Linked DNA regions of Homo sapiens: region 1 is linked to region 2. The links come from fine-mapping of genetic effects on gene expression. A gene starts in region 2. The other region holds a variant in brackets. All regions are shown on one strand. Distances are from middle to middle. Region 1 overlaps CEP152 (centrosomal protein 152). Region 2 holds the start of CEP152 (centrosomal protein 152).

What was found.
Region 1: its variant is fine-mapped to the expression of CEP152 in whole blood (TOPMed, PIP above 0.99).

Annotation. Positions count from the first base shown.
Region 1 is chr15:48,786,727-48,796,286 of GRCh38, reverse strand. CEP152 (centrosomal protein 152) reads left to right here. Exons shown (of 27, transcript NM_001194998.2): 6 at 127-277; 7 at 2,826-2,966; 8 at 4,911-5,050; 9 at 7,286-7,486. Among named protein-coding and RNA genes, the nearest start is that of CEP152, 20 kb to the left of the region's middle. RefSeq lists an enhancer at 1,175-1,454. The variant G/A (reference allele first, on the strand shown) is at 5,975.
Region 2 is chr15:48,807,276-48,816,835 of GRCh38, reverse strand. It overlaps CEP152 (centrosomal protein 152), which reads left to right and starts at 5,767. Exons shown (of 27, transcript NM_001194998.2): 1 at 5,767-5,875. LOC124903487 (a long non-coding RNA gene) reads right to left here and starts at 6,138. Exons shown (of 2, transcript XR_007064626.1): 1 at 6,029-6,138; 2 at 4,927-5,905. RefSeq lists enhancers at 5,338-5,397, 6,056-6,617, 8,840-9,340 and a silencer at 5,573-5,763.

The sequences.
Region 1 (9,560 bases), 21 kb after region 2:
TATATAAACAACTTTGAACTGTACCAAAAGTAAGTTCTGTAACGTAACATTAATTTAGGTGTCTAATTCAGATAATTTTGGAAGAAAAGGCCAAATCTTAATTGTCAGTTTCATTTGTTATCACAGGGTCCCAGTTGTCAAGGTTTGGAACCGTATAATAAAGTGACATATAAACCTTATCAGTCTTCTGCCCAGAATAATGGCTCACCAGCCCAGGAGATAACAGGAAGTGACACATTCGAAGGCCTGCAACAACAATTTTTAGGAGCTAATGAGAGTAGGTATCAAGTTTATATTTATTTTTTAATACCACATAATTGGGGAAATTTGAATACACAATGAATATTTGAGCACATTCAAGAATTATTATTTTTTAAGTATGACAATAGAATTGTGCTTGATATTTCAAAGAGCCCTTATTTTTAGAGATATATACTAGAGTATTTATGAATAAACTGACATGAAGTCTAGGATTTACTTTAAAATAATAGGCTGTTGAGGGGTAATGTTGGGTGGGAATATAGATGTGGCCAAATTGGCCATGAGTTCATAATTGTTGAATCTGGGAGATGGGTTCGTGGAGATTCATCATATTATTCTCTTTACTTTCTTATATATTTGAAATTTTTCGTAATGAAAAGTTAAAAGACATTTTTCCAACTTTATATTTCAGTCATTCTAGTTTGTTAAGCCTTTTCTCCTTATTTGTATAGTGTTAAGTATCCTCGCCTATCATACAGGATACCTGGACTTATTTGAAATTTAAAAAAATTTTAAAAGACTTTTTATGAACTTTATATATTTTTTTGACTGAAGCCTAATTTGGAAAATGAAACATAGTTTTCAATCTCAGATTTTTGACTATATAGAAGTGTAATTTAATACATCAGCACTATCATCAACTTTTTTCTTTTGATTTTACAGTTTTTAGTCAACTCTGATATAAATTAGTTTATATTCAGAATTACTTAGATATCAGGTTCAGTCATGTGGCATTTGCCAGTTTTTTTTGTATAGTATGTATATAAATATGAGAATGAAAAAAGTGCTTATAGGTACTAGAGAATTCTGAGATGAAATGCTAGTATCAAAAAACAAAAATCCCAAAATATAAACCCGTATAGTGACTGTACTGAATTACTCTTGTCATACTGTCTGGCACACTAAATAGCTTCTAATTATTGTGCATATTGAAGAGCCAGTGTAATTCTAGAGTGTGGCAGCAAGTGTTTTTGTTTTACTTTTTGTTTCCCTTTAATTAGTAGGGGAAAGGTCATACTGGATATTCTGGCTTACCTGGGCTATACCAAAGAGAAAACTGGACTTTTGGGTTGTGACTTCATATTGTTGCTTCCATCGTACACTGGGACGGCAGGGTAGTTACAGGGGGAGGCCCAGAATTCATTTTCCCCTGAAGGAGTCAACAGCAAATATGAGGATGGCCTCTCTTTGTTCTTAAGTTTTTTGTGGAATGAGGAAGTGGACAGTGTATATGACATAACTGGTTTTAGGTTGAGTAAATGAACCTCACAGCAGTGGCCTGACATCTCCTTAGTGTTTACTCTTTCAGTTCCCTTGAAAAGTTGTATTTGTATCTCCTGGTCTTTCTGCATATAAAAACCTTTCCTTACCTTTCTTAACACTCTGCACTTCTTCAAGTTGAGTCAGTTACACATTTGTCTAAATTTGACATTTGGAAGTTAATTAAATAACTTAATGGTAGTGCCAAATTAGTGATTATAGTTTCTTAGCAACAGTAATTTAAAAAATTTGGAGATGGGGCTAGCTCTACTATAAGACCTATGAGGAGTTTGACTTGTATAAACTTTTCAGTCTTTAATTTTCTTTATTTAACCAGATCTCTTTCTAAAAAGAGGACAGAATTATTTAGTTAGCAAGTGGTTAAAACTCAGTAAATGCATTTATTTCTGATTGTAAGCTAACAGAAACATTGTTCTAGTAGTAAGTAGAATATTTATCATTATGTAGTTGAAGCATACCTACCAATCCTTTTTTCCATTTTTTTTCTCTTTTTAAAGTGGTCCCCAAATGACTAATTGTTTCTAAAAGAAGACTTCAAAAATTTTTTTTTAAATTATGTATTCGTGGAGTAGATTTGGAGGTTTGTTATATGGGTATATTAAATAATGCTGGGGTTTGACTTCTAGTGAACCCATCACCCAAATAGTGAACATAGTACCCAATGGATAGTTTTTCAACCCTTCTCCCCTGCTCCCTCCCCAAAATTCTTGATTAATCTATTCACTAGCTAATTAATTCAGTTATGTGCCAGCATCAATATAAATATAATATTTTCCCCACTCCTGCCTAAAATAAAATATTTTGAGGCTGTCTAGAAATTTTCTTTAAAAATGATTTTATAGAAGCTGATGTACTTGTTTTGTTTTTAATTTTCTGACAGCATATTACTTTATTTCATTGCAGTTGTTATATACTGATTTTTAACTGGCTAAAATGGTAGTTAGTGATTCAGGGTTATAACTTAAACCAGTGACTTTCAAACTTTCCTATCAGTGACCCACTGTAAGAACTATATTTTTTTACATTGTGATATGGTGTACAACATGTATCTATATGAACAGGTATATATAAATGAAACAAGTTTCACAAAATAAGACTGTTTCTTACTACATGATGCACTCTGATATATTCTCTCTCTCTTTTTTAATCCTAGTCACAATTCACTGAATTGATTTCATGATGCTCTAAAAGGTTGTAGTCACAGTTTGAAAAACACTGCTTTAAATGACTATAAATTTATATTTTGGTATGTTTTTATCTAATAAATTGTCTTTAATTCCCAGACTCTGCAGAAAATATGCAGATTATTCAACTTCAGGTTCTTAACAAAGCAAAAGAGAGACAACTGGAGAACTTAATTGAAAAGTTAAATGAAAGTGAACGTCAAATTCGATATCTGAATCACCAGCTTGTAATAATAAAAGGTAAGATGCTGGATGCTGTCATTTATGAGGTACACTGAGTTAGATATCTTGTTTCCAATAACCTCAGATTACATACGAAGCTTAGAGAGTAAAAACACTTGGTCAGAGGGCTCATAGTGAGTGAGGCATAGCAAAACAAAACCCAGGATTTCTGAGTGTTGGCCTTGGATTACTTCTCTTTGGAACACGCTGTTTTGGAGACCAGGCATGGTGGCTTACGCCTGTAATCCCAGCACTTTGGGAGGCTGAGGTGGGCGGATCACTTGAGATCAGGAGTTCAAAACCAGCCTGGCCAACATGGTGAAACCCTGTCTCTACTAAAAATACAAAAATTAGCGGGGCATAGTGGCAGGCACCTGTAATCCCATCTACTTGGGAGGCTGAAGCAGGAGAAGGAGAATCACCTGAACCTGCAGGCGGAGGTTGCAGTGAGCCGAGAAAGCGCCATTGCACTTCAGGCTGGGTGACAGAGTGAGACTCTGTCTCAAAAAAAAAAAAAAGACACTCTATTTTGGAGTCCCTATATTTTCCCTTTTCTCACTTAGGCTTTTAGAATCATTGAACATTATTTAACTGTACTGATGGCATTCTGTCCTAAAAAGTTGTTGATTCCTTATGTCTGATTCCTTATGTCATTACTCTGGATGAAGTATTCCAGCTTTCAGAGTGATTTGTGTTTAGTTTGCACTGCAGCGTTTCCTGAGGCTACAAATTAGCATAAACGTTTTAATCCAAATAAGAGTTAGTGATTGTGAAGTGCCATGTCTGGGATAAACACACAGAGTAAATACAGATTCAAATTATAATTGCTTACTCCTTGTGCTTTCTCTAGTTTTGGTCCACGTTGAACTTTCATTTGCAGAATACTTTTGTGATTGAACTCTAGCTCATTTCAAATTTAATTGATGGTAAAAATGTCTCTTTCTGTAATGCTCATAACATTTATTTTGAGAGAAGAACTTGTGAGCTGTTATAGCAAAGTATGTGGGAAGAATTTAACATTAGGTGAATTTAAGAGTTCATTCCAAGTGGGTCGGGCACGGTGGCTCACTCCTGTAATCCCGGCACTTTGGGAGGTCAAGGAGGGCGGGTCACGCGGTCAGGAGATCGAGATCATCCTGGCTAACATGGTGAAACCCCATCTCTACTAAAAATACAAAAAATTAGCTGGGTGTGTGGTGGCGCCAGTAGTCCCAGCTACTCAGGAGGCTGAGGCAGGAGAATGGCGTGAACCTGGGAGGCGGAGCTTGCAGTGAGCCGAGATTGCACCTCTGCCCTCCAGCTTGGCGACAGAGCGAAACTCCGTTTCAAAAAAAAGAGTTCATTGCAAGTATGTGTAGGATAATTAGTCCTCAGATAACTTCTTTGATTAGCAGGGATTTGTCCCCAAAAGGGATGCAATAATAGTTTTAAAGGAAGTAGTTCTGCTTCTCTAAAAAAATTTTTTTGGTATCAGGTTTGTTTTTTTTTTTAATTTTTAATTTTTAATAATTTATTTATTTGGGGCTGGGTGAGGTGGCTCACGCCTGTAATCCCAGCACTTTGGGAGGCCAAGGTGGGTGGATCACTTGAGGTTAGGAGTTCGAGACTAGCCTGGCCAATATAGTGAAACCCCATCTCTACTAAAAATATAAAAATTATCTGGGAGTGGTGGCAGGTGCCTGTAATCCCAGCTACTGGGGAGGCTGAGGTTGTAGTGAGCCAAGATTATACCACTGTACTCCAGCCTGGGCGACGGAGTGAGACGCTGTCTCAAAATAAATAAATAAGTAAGTAAGTAAATTCTTTATTTAGTTTTCTCTAAATCAACTAAAGTTCATTTTTCTGAATTAAATTTAATTCAACAACATTTATATATGATACAGACGTGACATCTGATTGGGATTGTGACATTGGGGTCCCTCTACAGGAACATTATTTATATAAACATTTTTAATACCGTAGATGAAAAGGATGGTTTGACTCTCAGCCTTCGAGAATCACAGAAACTCTTTCAGAATGGAAAAGAAAGAGAGATACAGCTTGAAGCTCAAATAAAAGCACTGGAGACTCAGATACAAGCATTAAAAGTCAATGAAGAACAGGTACCTATTTTAACTTATGTATGGTAAAAAAATTAAAAGTTTAGTTATTTAACAAAACTTTTTGTAGGGTAGGACTAAATTTAGAAGAACTTTGAAGTTATTGACAAAGCATTAGAACTTAAATTTCCTGACTGCAATAGTTTGCTTCAGAATTGGTATCCCGAGAAGCTTTTATTTTTATTTTTCCTGCTGCTTCTCCATTTGGAGAACTGTTTTTTAAACTTGAGTTTAAAGTGGTGACACATTCACATTCTTTGATTAATGAGATAGCCATTTGATTTTTGGAAATAGTCATAAGTCATTGGTAGCTAAGCCTGGTGGTGGTTGATTCATTTTTTGGCAGGGGGCAGGGTTAAAAATGAAAGTGATGGCCGGATGCAGTGGCTCACGCCTGTAATCCCAGCACTTTGGGAAGCCGAGGCGGTCGAATCACCTGAGGTCAGGAGTTTGAGACCAGCCTGGCCAACATTGTGAAACCCCGTCTCTATTAAAAAGTACAAAAATTAGCTGGGCGTGGTGGCAGATGCCTGTAATCCCAGCTACTCTGGAGGCTGAGACAGCAGAATCGCTTGAACCCAGGAGGCGGAGGTTGCAGTGAGCTGAGATTGCTCCATTGCACTCCAGCCTGGGGGACGAGAGCGAGACTTGTCTGAAGAAAAAAAAAATGAAAGTGACTATGAAATAATGAGCTTGGTTTTGAGTGAGACTTGTAGCTAAGTCTGAGGATGGTTTAATGAAAGAGTTTAAACAGTGTTGTCTCATGTCTGGCTTCTCCTCATCCTTCAGGTCTTAGCTAAAAACAATTACCTTTTCAGAGGACTTGCTATTCACTTTATATGTAAGGTAGCCCATAGCTCCATCCTCCAACTCACCTTCATCATGCCATATTCTATTACTCTATAACTATCTGAAATGATCTCATTT[G/A]TTTACTTGTTATTTATTGTCTCTTCCCACTAGAAAGTAGTAAGAGCTTAGACCTTTTCTGTTTGGTCATTATGTCCTTAGTGCTTAGAACCCTGCCTGGCACAAATGATCTGTGTCATTCAGTGGATGGATCTCTTAGCCATGAAAGCAGTATTGGAATAAATAGGCAATCTCTGGAATAGAATGAAGAATAATTCTCTTGAAATTTTAATTTTTGTATGTAATGTAGATTATTTTTAACTTTTTGAAAACCAATAGTTATTAGATTAAAAAGTTAAGTTGCCTTTATGTAGTAAAAGGTTATAACTTTGTAATCTTTTTTATGTAAGCAGCAGAATCACCAAGTGTATTAGTTTCCTATTGCTGCTGTAACAGATGACCACAAATTCAGTGGTTTAAAACAATACAAATTTATCTCACAGTTCTGGAGGTCAGAAGTCTGACATGGATCTCACTAGGCTAAAATCAGGGTGTCAACAAGGCTGCATTGCTTTCCGGAGGCTTTAGGGGAGAATCCATTTTCTTGCTATTTCCAACTTCTAGAGGCCACCTGTGTTCCTTAGCTTGTGGCCCATTTCCATCTTCAAAGCCAGCAATGAATGGCTGATTGAGTCTCTCTGGTTCTGACTTTTCTGCCTTAGTTTTTCTCATTTATGGACCCTGTGGTTACATTGGGCCCACCTGGATAATCCAGGCTACTCACCTTATTTTAAGGCAATCTAATTAGCCATATTAATTCCACATACAATCTTAATTTTCCCTTGCCATGTAATATAACTGATTCACAGGTTTTGGGGATTAGGACACGGTCATTTTGGAGGGCTATGATTTTGCCTACAATACCAACTGTGCAGTTACAGCTTTGAAAACTTTGTTTTTAGTAAGTGACCATTGGCAGGTTTCATCAGTCTTTCAAGGAACAGTTGTCATTTTTCTGTGACCTAACAATTGGGTTACCCCACACTTTGGTCATAGAGCAATGCAAACAGCACTGGGGCCATCACGGCATCAGCAGATTCCGTGCCTGATAGCCACATCCATCATGCTGCGCAAAATCCTCTTTCACTCCCCTCAGGTATCTACCAAATGTATTTTCTCAGGGAACATTGTTTCCAACAACTATGGGCCTGGAGGGTCCCAGCTAGGGTTGTTTTAAGGAGCTTGAGCCATGATGAGCGGAGACCCCTTCTCTACTCTCATTAAAACATGCTTGAGTTTTATTTTATAGTAAAAGTAAAAGTTTATAGACAGCACAGAGCTAAAATACTCTGTGTATATTTTAAACATGGATATCCTGTGTGTATTTACTAGATGATCAAGAAGTCCAGAACAACTGAAATGGCTCTGGAAAGCTTGAAGCAGCAGCTGGTGGACCTTCATCATTCTGAATCACTTCAACGAGCTAGAGAACAGCATGAGAGCATTGTTATGGGCCTCACAAAGAAGTACGAAGAGCAAGTATTGTCCTTACAAAAGAATTTGGATGCCACAGTCACCGCACTTAAAGAACAGGTTGGGATGATTTCAAATGAGCAACTGTTATCAACAAGTAAAGCTGGTTATGTTTTGTAACTGATATTTTATGGTTCATCATATAGAAGTCTTGGATGTTTGTAGTAAATGTTAGATTGTGTGTGAGGTGAGTGAAACTTAAAAGCCAGTGATATTGGCTGGACGCAATGGCTCACGCCTGTAATCCCAGTACTTTGGGAGGCCAAGGCAGGCGGATCACCTGAGGTCAGGAGTTCAAGATCAGCCTGGCCAACTTGGTGAAACCCCGTCTCTACTATAAATACAAAAAAAAAAAAAAAATTAGCCGGGCGCAGTGGTGCGTGCCTGTAATCCCAGCTACTCGGGAGGCTGAGGCAGGAGAATTGCTTGAACCCGGGAGGCAGAGGTTGCCGTGAGCTGAGATCGCACCACTGCACTCCACCCTGGGCGACAGAGCGAGACTCCGTCTCCCCAAAAAAAAAAAAAAAAAAAAAAGAAGCCAGTGATATTTTAATCTGAGAATACATCCTAAAGGTATACTTTTGGAAACCCTACTTCTTATACGATTATTAGTACTTTCTCAACTTTCACATTACTTGTCCTTTATTTGTAGGGTATTTGTGTATGTTGTTTATATGGTCCTAGAATAAATCCAGACCAAAACAAATGAGTCTGCCAGCGGCTGGCTAGAACTTGAGAGGTTACCTTGGAAGCTTAACCAGTAGAAAACCTTACTTGAGTCTCCCAGCATTTGGTAATTCACCTGTCAATACAGCAATACAGTCTGTTGAGAAATGATTCTTGGGAAGAGAGTAAATTTTGAGGACAGTATAATTTATAAAATAAGACAGTCTGATCTAGACTTAATGAGATTTGCATCTTGAGCATATTGCACAGTGAATTTTTATTATTTTCACTCAAGGGGGAATAAAATATTGAAAGCTAAATGTGAGTCAGGTGGTGAGTTTGCTTGTGCTCCATAACTCTAGGTAATCACTTGAGTGAATAACATTTCAGAATTTATTTTTCTTAATGTAATTTCAAAATTGATTTAACTTAAGGGAAGGAGAGAAGAAAAATCAGATGTGAGGGTATGGAAAATTTCACCACACTTAAAATTCATGCTGATTTGGGTTATTTCTGACCTATATAGCTGCCTCTAATTTTTCCATGCTTTTAGGTAGAACTATATAAGAGTGCATTACTGGCAATAATTATTTATCATTTTATTTTATTTTTACATGTATTTATGTGTGTTTTTATTATATCTATTTCATTATGTATTTATTTTATATAAAAAAATTGTGAATTTGATCAATGTGGAGGATATATAGGAGTAGGGAAAGATGAAGGCCAGTTACGGTGGCTCATGCCTGTAATCCCAGCACTTCGGGAGGTTGAGGCAGGTGGATCACTTGAGCCCATGAGTTCAAGACTAGCCTGGGCAAAATAGTGAATCCTTGTCTTTACGAAGAAAAAATAACAAATTAGCTGGGCATGGTGGCATGCGCCTGTAGTCCCAGCTACTTGGGAGGCTGAGGTGGGAGGATTGCTTGAGCTCAGGAGGTCGAGGCTGCAGTGAGCCATGATTGCACCACTGCATTCCAGCCTGGGTAACAGAGTGAGACTCTTTTTCCAGAAAAAAAAAAAAAAAAAAACGAAGGCTATACCAAATTATTGAAAAGTCTACTTTATAGAATATTTAAACAGAATTTGAGATGTAGCTTCATAAATTTTTATTTTATTTTATTTTAAAGTTAGTTTTGGCCAAACATAGGGTAACATTGAAGTTAGTTGGACTTGGACAGTAGCCCTTCTTGGATGACTGGAGAAGAGTGGATCCTGGTGGCTTTTCCTTATTGGGTTGGGGGTCTCCATTCTCTGTTGACTTAAACACAGTTTCATTAGGGATGGATTGGAAGGAATTTCTAGTGTTTTCTACCCCTGTGCCCACTGCATTACTCTGTTGTCCACTGCCCCACCCCCTTCAATAGAAGAACTCTACAGTAAAGTCAGAACAAATTCTTGATTCTGTGCTGGGTGGGTTTCAGACCCCGGAATCCATAAATTGAAGGTGTTAAGGTCTTTTCCCACT
Region 2 (9,560 bases):
TTGGTGACAACAGAGAACTGGAGAGGAACAATAGGAATTATTTACTTACTTACTTTTTTTTTTTTGAGACAGAGTCTCGCTCTGTCGCCCAGGCTGGAGTGCAGTGGCACGATCTTTGCTCACTGCTAGCTTCGCCTCCCAGGTTCACGCCATTCTCTTGCCACAGCCTCCCGAGTAGCTGGGACTACAGGTGCCTGCCACCACGCCCGGCTAATTTATTTTTATTTTTATTTTTTGTATTTTTAGTAGAGACAGGGTTTCACCGCATTAGCCAGGATGGTCTCGATCGCCTGACCTTGTGTTCCACCGTCCTCGGGCTCCCAAAGTGCTGGGATTACAGGCATGAGCTACCGTGCCCGGCCTATTTACTTACTTTTAAGAGAGGAGTATGATCTCATTCATATGATTTTATATTCCTAAATACTGCCCTATTTTTCAAAAAACAAGTAATTTTTCACACTTGCCTTGATAAATATGTTATTTAAGCAGAAAAAATTCATAGCCAGCATATTTTCATAAAGTATAAGCAAATTTCAGAGGAATTACAAGTTGATTGTTTTAGTAATAAGAACTCGAACCTCTAAATGTCTATTATTTTATTTATTTATTTAGTTTTTTGAGACAGACTCTCGCTCTGTTGCCCAGGCTGGAGTGCAGTGGCTGACCTCAGCTCACTGCAGCCTCCGCCTCCCAGGTTCAAGTGATTCTCCTCCCTCAGTCTCCCAAGTAGCTGGGACTACAGGCATGTGCCACCACGCCTTGCTAATTTTTATATTTTTGGTAGAGACGGGGTTTCGCCATGTTGCCTGGGTTGGTCTCAAACTCCTGACCTCAGGTGATCTGCCGGGCTTAGCCTCCCAAAGTGCTGGGATTACAGACATGAGCCATGGCGCCCCACCCAAATGTATATTATTTTAAAGTCGCTATAGAAAAAGTGAAAATATTTAAAGTAGTTAACACTACATAGAGTTGGTTTAATCAAACAACTCACAATAAGCTTACTTGATATTGATGAAGCCAAACATAGTTAATAAATAAACAGTAATAACAGCTCGTAAAGACCATGACTTCCTGGGGGAATGGTGCTATTAACATCCTCCTTCCAAAACTGGGAATTCCAATTACCTTCAACTGTGCATGAGCAAGAGCTTTGTAATATTGCACATCCAAATGATGATCATTCTTGATAAACCCGAAAAATGCACTCATTTTAATTTACAAATTCTTAACATTAGTAACTTCCTATATCTTACTTGGTGGATTTCTAATTGTATGTAAAAATAAAAATCTACAAATTATTTTCCTATGATAATTGAAGAAATGCCTTGGGCATTTGTATCATTTAATACAAATGAGGTATACCAGTGGACCATGGCCCTATTTGGAGTATCACTGGTCTAGACTTTTCAAATATAATCACTAAAAATGTATCTTAGTCATGAATGTTTGGTTGCCAAGAATGTAAACCTACCTTTATTAACTTCTTAGGGCTACTGTAACCAATACCGCAAACAACAGAAGTTTATTCTCTCACAGTTCTGGAAGATAGAAGTCTGAAATCAAGATGTGGTAGGGCCATGCTCCCTCCAAAGGCTCTAGGGAAAAATCCTTTCTTGTCTCTTCCAGCATCTGGTGGCCCCAGACGTTCCTTGGCCTATGGCAATCTAACCCCAATCACCACCTTTACCCTCACATGGCTGTCTTCTCCCTATGTGTCTCTTTGTGTCCTCTCTTCTTATGAAGACACCAGTCATTAGACTTAAGGCTGATAGCACTTTGCATAGCACTTCTGTGATGACATTGCTTTAACCTGATAGCTTTGACACCAAAAAAGAGGAAAAGGGAGAAATGATGGTTTAGCTTTACCTAAGTTTAATCCCGAATGAGCTCATATTAAACAATTGTATCAGCAAAAACCATATTTCCAAATAAAGTCACATTCTGAAGTTCTAGGTGGACATGAAATTTTAGGGAACATGATTCAACCTCTACAATGACCCAAGCCAGCTCAAGTCAAAAAGTTTTTAAGGTTTAGTTATCACAGAATGCAAGGAAAAGCTAAACTGTCTGGCTTTTCAAAGTACAGGAACCAGACAGATACATGGCTTTCAGTGGCAAAAGTTCATGATCTTCAGTCTAGGGTCTACCATGTATATGACACAGTTATGGAGGAAGCATATTTCCCATAAAATACAGGCAAGTGTAATAAAAGTCTGCTTCTCCTCTGTATGGCTACCACCTTGCTCAGTTTTGTGGAATCTTAGTTATCTGGGAAGGGAATACGATTGGCCCAGCTTGGGTCTAGTGTTCCCCTTTGATTCAGTCAAGTCTGGCCAGGACCGTGGGTGGTAGGATGGTGATGGTGGTGAGGTCATAATGACTGTGAGCAGGAGCAGATTCTGTGAGAAGGGACTTGAGCAGAGTGGGCATTTTGATCCACATGTCAATATTAAATGATCCCAGCACAGTGTTTGGCACAAAGTAGGTGTTCCCAAAATACTGTTGAATAAGATGTAAATAATGGTCTGATCTTCCTTGGTTCTTTCCAAGTACTCCTGTTCCATCTCTAGCACTTCCTATTTTTGTCCTGTTCTCATGAAGCCATATCCTTTGTGTAGACTCTTTGTTTGTCCCATCCCATAAGCTCCTGTTGCCCTCGGCACACATTCACCCTTGTCTTTCTCTGCCATCCACTCCCAGAACACCTTCCTGGTTTTTCCTTACTACCTCAGACCCCAGTGTGTACTCTAATCCAATAAGCCATAGTACATAGAAACACAATGGAAAATAATGTTTTTACATTTAAAAGCTGTTTCTCACAATCTCATCTCATTTTTTTTTGGCCACAATCCTGAGAAGTGGGTATTATCATCCCTATTTTCAGATAAGGACTTTGAGGCTTTTGAGTGTTAAATTGTTATGGACAATGCTAGTAGGTAGGAGAACTGGGACTTGAACTCAGATCTTCTTACTCTAAGTTCTGTGTTCCTTTGAAGATAGTACTCCTTGATGATAGCACTTTGGATAGCACTCCTGTGATGACATTGCTTTGACCTGATAGCTTTGACACCAAAAAGGAGGAAAAAGGAGAAATAATGGTTTAGCTTTACCTTTATAAATGCTTGTTAGTGGGAGGGACCCCATCTCATCAACAATGTGACATTTTCTCTTGAAATGTCTCACCCAGCTCATAGGTGTGCCCATTTAAAACATGCAAGGTAAACATCGAGCCAACGTTTCACAAATAATCTTTTGTCCAGCATTTGAGATCTTTGGCAGTTTTACTTTCTTCTCCCACACTTGCCTTTCTTATCCCAGAATGCCTCTGTCTGCTTGTGTTTCTTTGGATGTTAGATTCATTCCTTGTGCACACCATTACCTGACCTCTGTAGAATGCCCTTCCTATTCTCCCAGGCTTAAAGCTCTTCTATGGACCACCTCCTTCCTGCCTTCTTCTCCAGACTTACATCTAAATGTAAGATTCCTGCACTTTTGCTGGTCTGGCCTTTAAATTGCACTCATGCTAATCAACTGACCTGTTGAGCTCTCTCCTTCTCTTCTTCCTTGAACCTGCCTTGATAGATTCATCTTTAGGTGTTCACTTTCCCTAGAATTATTGCCTATTCTACTCTTATTACACTTAGTAAACAATTTTTATTATTATTTATCTTTCTACGTAAGCATCTTGTAACTCAGAGTGTTGGTACCTTGAGCATAGGGGTCCTACCCTGCACCTAGGCCAGGACTTAAACAGGATAGGTGGTCAAAGAAATTTAGTTGAATATATCCATAACTCCACCAAAAACCATTTTTAGAGGCATGGCAGGATGGGAGGTTGATTTATTCTTTATTTTCCCTCTTTGTCACGTATATGCTAGTCTCACTAAAATATTTTGTATGTAGTGATGAGCTCTGGGTTTGGAGATAAAGGACCTGGTTTCAGATTCTGTCTGCCTTGTATTAGCTGTGTAGCCTTGGACAAGTCATTTAATTTATTTTTATGTAAGTTTCTTCAACTGGAAAATGGGTAGGAATACCTGTCCTAACCCCCCACAGTGTTGTAGTGAGAACCAAATGAGATGATGCTTGTGAAAGAATTTACCAATCTGTAAAGCACTGTGTAATGGATTATAAACACTGCCTCCTCATGTGCTTACCCTGACACGTTTTATGCTTTCATCCTTCTAAGAAGCAGTTGTTTGTGCATGGGGATCACCTGGCATTCTTGCTGCAGCACTCCATCATAACCCTCAGCACAGAATGCAACATACAGTTTGCCAATCGACTTCAGTGGGATGTGAAAAGTGAAAAGTGCATTTAATTCTCACTAAGATGCCTTGGCTCAGATTCAACAAATGCCATTTACTTGAAGGCCTTTTATTTGCTTTTTCTGCCTGCCCCCCTGCCAAAATCTTCATCTATTTGTTCATTTATTCATTTACTCATTTAACATAATTGTTTTGAGTGCCTACCAGGGTCATGTTAGACACCCAAGAAGTAAAGTGAGTACTTCAAGATATTCACGTTGTACTGAGTGTAAGACACACAAAAACTTACAGTAGATAAAAGAACTATAATAGGATATATAGGATACACTGTGTACAGAGGTAGGAAAGATCATTTTTGCGAAGTGAGGGAGTGTGTGTCATGAAAGGCTTCAAAGGAGGTGCTAGTCTGTCTTCAAAACTAAGTAGCAGGAGAAGGTAGAGGCGATGCAGGTGAAAGAAACAGCTTTCACAGCAGGTGAAAGAAAAAAAGCGCTCTGGGAACCATTGTTAGCTCAGGCTGTGATTTCGTTCATTCTATTACAGTGGGTTAAATTACCTGTTGTTTGCCAAACCCTATACCAGTTTATGGGGTTACAGGGGTCAGTGTAGGCATCATGGGGGCGGACGGTGAAGTAGCAAAGGAAAACCAGCCACAGTATGAAGAGCCTCGAACAACCATTTTACTCCGTGCCAGTACACATGGGAAAGGGTTGAAAGGATATGTGAACCTGCCGCCACCAATTCCTTGATTATTCACTGGAACCCTTTCAGCCAGAGAAGATAGACACAGTACTGGGCTTTACTGAGGACTGGGTGGCGCTGTCTTTAGGGGCAGGTTAATAATATACACCTAAGTGACAAGAACACTCACACCCGAGGAAATTAGAGTAGTAAATAGACACGTGGAAAAATGTGCCATCTTATCAGTAATTAAAGAAGCAAAAATGTAAACAAAGCGGCACCTAGTAAGGTAGAAGACAAAGCAAAATATCTAAGGCTGTTAAATAATGGGGAAGCAGGCGCCTTAGAAAACAAGGGCAAATGTAAAAAACCTCTAAGGCAAGAGTTCGGTGGGGAATCTGCGGGATTCTGTGTGCTGAAGCGCAGGAGGCACGAGTCACCTTTGCAGTCTCCGGTACCAAACGGGCAAGGGGTCCCCGTAAGACTGCTGCACCCTGGCCGAAGGTAGCGGGTGAAGCGCCTCGGCGTCTCTAGGCAACCGATCAGCCCGCCCACTCCGGGGTGACTTCCTCGTAATTGGCTCTCGAATCCACCAATGGGCGCACAGGGGGAGCTTCCCGCCACCTCTGGCGCCCGCTTTCAAACAGCCGTACTTTGCAACTGCAGGTGGACTTCTCAACCAAGCTTGAGGAAGGCGGAGACTTCTGCCTCCTCGCTCTGCCCTGAGCTGGCACGGCTCCGCCCACCGGGCGAGCTTCTAGTCGGCGATTGAAGGATGCGAGTGCTCCTTAAGGGCCTCCGCCCCGTGAGTTCGGTTGTGACTAGGAAGGAGCTAGTGGACTAGAGCCAGGGTAAGGGGATCTGCTAGAAGTTGGTCTTCCGCCAGGACTAGAGTTTCCTCGCGGTAACAGCCTCCGTGGCCTCCGGTAAGTTCTGATTCACGGGTGAGCTTGGACCTGGGGTTAGAGGAGTTGCGGGGTCCTCGGGATGCTGGCTGAGGGTTCCTGGGGGGGCTGACCTGCCCCCTCCCCAAATCCCGCGGTGGTGGACTGCCCGCATGTTGCGGGCTCAGCTTTTACCTTAACGTGTCATTTAGACCTCTTCATTCCTCCAATATCCTACTTAGAAGTGACATATGGGAAGCCCGCCTCGTTTCCAGGCTGCTGGGGTCGCCCTGAGACCCTACTCTGCGGACCCCGCCTTGGTCACCCTGGCGTCACGCCTGGCTCACAGTAGGTGCTCTGTGCACGTGTGTTGACCGAGTACAAGTGACGCTGGCACCCGAAGCCAGTAGCCCCGGGCATCCTGGGCCCCGTGCGGCTTTGGTCATGTTTGTAGTGCCGTAGCTGACGCCAAACAGTTCCTCAAGGTCATTCGCTCAGCCTGTGGATGCTTATTGTGTATTAGCATTACTCGCTCCGCCCTCTGGGCAACTTGAATCAATTTGTCCAAAGTGCTGTTATTAGCACTGATCACAAGATGTTGTGATCATTTGTTTATATGTCTATTTTCTTTCCCTTCATCGTGTCCTGTTAAACTTTGTAATCTTGAACAGTGCTTGGTAAATTGTCGAATGAATGAATAAGGTGTCTCCACCAGGTGTTGCAAGTCTAAACCGGGCTATGTGCTCTGGCTATTTCCATTCTAGAAGGCGAGTTATGTCAGCAAGTAAGTAGAATTTCCCAACTCCAAGTGCAGTTCTTAGAAACCCCTTTTGTGGGGGTTTATAACCCTTCCTATATCGTAGTCATGAACTTGAGTCTGATTTAAGCCTATTATCACCTTATACCTTCATAGTGCGTGACAATGAACATGCACTCCCTAGACAGGTGAATGCACTCAACTAAAGAGAAGCTGAAGTTGAAGCCATAAGAAAAGCATAAGAAATACAGTCTGAAAGTGCAAAGGAGTGGCCAGCTCCATGGGGGAACAGGCTTGGGAGGGCATCTTGAAGGAGGGTGGCATTTTTGTTCCATAGGAGGTTGCATTATTAGAAGTGACATTTCTCATAGGCTGCACATTCACCTTTTCTCAGATATGCGGAATCCTCTTTATTCCCTAAACCTCTTCGGTAGCTGGCAGACTCCTATTCATCAGTAATAATGTCATAATAGTAATAAAACTACAATGTATTGATTGGTACATAGTGCTAATTACTTTACATGTAGTATCTTGTGAATCCTCAGAATCAATCTTTGAAGTAGGTATTATTTTTACCCCCATTTCTTTAACGTAGAAGCAGAAACAGTTTGCTCAAGATTGCACTGCTGATAAATAGAAGAGCCAGAATTGAGCCCAGGTTGTCTGAATGAGTGCCCTCATTCTTAGAACCACTTATAGCCATATTGTGTCCTTTAAGATTTATTTCTAATCTAAAAGCTCTTTTTTTTCTGTAAAACTTCTCTAAACTATCCTTTCTTCTTAGGAAAAGTAATTTGTGCTTTGTACTTTCATCTACTACGGAATTTATTACAATATGTTATTGTAACTGTTTATATCAGTGGCTCTATCTAAGAGAGGGTGAGCAGAGACAGTGAGCTCCTCATGGCTGGTACCATGTCTTAGGTGCATCTAGGATATGATCTGGAACACAGTGGGTATTCAATAAAATTTTATTGAAGTAATGAATTCGTATAAGGTAACATGCCTATATCATATTCAGTCAACAAATATTTGTTATGTACCCACCATGTGCAAGCAGGCAGATACATTTTAATTCTGCCTTCAGGGTGCTTATAGTTTATTAGATGAAGCAAAAACAATGCTACTTTTGCTTTGTAATCTTTTGTCCAAATACCCATTGCTTTTGTTGCAAGGAGGGCAGAGAAAACAACCGGGGACAACAAAAGGAATGCTGGGTCAGAGCATCCATCTGAGTGTAACAACAAGACATACTTTTTATAGTCTTGTTAAGGGTTCAGAAAAAGTTATCTAGGAAGAAAGTCTACCAGACTGCTATTGAAGAAGAAAACCAAAACATACTGTATACTTAATCTGCATCTTGATTTCTCAAGTGGTCAGCCTTGAGTCAATAGATATAGAAAATTTTCAGTATTTTTACTAGTGGCATAGTATTGACAAATTAATTCAAAATAATTTTACTAGTGTAAATGTTAATTTTCAATATATTAATATTGATAGTTTTCAAGATGGTTTAGCAGTTGATATTTTCACCAGCAACTCATGAGCCATACAAAATACAAAATAGTCACCACTGGGTGATAACAAGTTTTTTTTTTGTTTGTTTGTTTTTTCAATCTAGTGGTTGAAAATGGCATATTGTTTAAATGACACTTCTTTGAAACATCACGAGCTTAAGCATCTTTTCAAACTAATTGATTTACACTTTTTAAAATAAATTGTCATGTCAGTCGCCCAATTTTATATTGGATTGTCTTTTTCTCATTTCTTTGTAATAATTTTATATTGGGACTTTGTCAGGTGCTTTGCAAATTTTTTTTATTCTTATTTTTCTTGACTTTGTTATTGATGTATTTTTTCATATATAATATTTGACTCGTTAATGATGTCTTTTGCCTTAAACAAAATTTTATTTTTTGTGGTTAGGTTTCCATCACATTTTTCTTTATGGCTTTTGGATTTACTATCTTGCTATTTTTTTTTTTTAAAGAAGTCTCTTTTGTTGTTCTGAATATTATACTAAAGTCTCTGGTAGCAGTGATAATGAGTGGTGATTAATAAGTTAAGGTATTAGCTTTTATTTTAAGTCTCATTTAAAATATGTATTACCTTTTTACTATATATATTTTTAACCACATTAAGTTGATCAGGTTTCCCTTTATGTCTGAAATCATTTCTTAAAGTCTTTTATAGTTTATAGTTCTGATAAGGAAAACTTATACCTTCTTCAGTGGGGGAGATTTTGGTCTTTTCAGGTATTTTTAGATGTCTTCTTTAATGACATGTTTTGAATTTAAAATAACATTAAAGATATATACTTTGATATTTTACATTCTCTTTAAAAACAAAACCCTAAGTATTCTCTATCTGAGAAAAAGTAGCTGTCTATTTAAAATATTAGTAGCTACATTTTTAGCAATAGGCTCTTATAAATCTTAATGTTCTTTTTCAATAATCAACATCAGTTGATGGCAGGTTAATAAAGGATGGGAACAAACCTCTCTTCTCTAACTTAATGAAGGAGAAAGTAACCCAAATTCCATATTTCGTCTTGTATTTATATTTGAATGAAAGAAAGGTAGAAGACACAGAATTCAGAAACAGAAAGGATTTTTTCTGCCTGGAGGATTCAGGAATTTCTTTAAGGTCCAGCTTAATTTCATCTCTTTTTTTTTTTTTTTTTTGAGACGGAGTCTCGCTCTGTCGCCCAGGCCGGACTGCGGACTGCAGTGGCGCAATCTCGGCTCACTGCAAGCTCCGCTTCCCGGGTTCACGCCCTTCTCCTTCCTCAGCCTCCCGAGTAGCTGGGACTACAGGCATCTCTTTTAAGGACATAGGATTTAATTGGGCTAGTATTTTCAATATATATAGTGTTCTGTAGAATATTAAGTCTATTTGCATAGTGGAAAAAAATCTAGAGACATGAGATTGTGTGTTTTTCCCTCACCATTTCATGTTACAGGCTTTTTA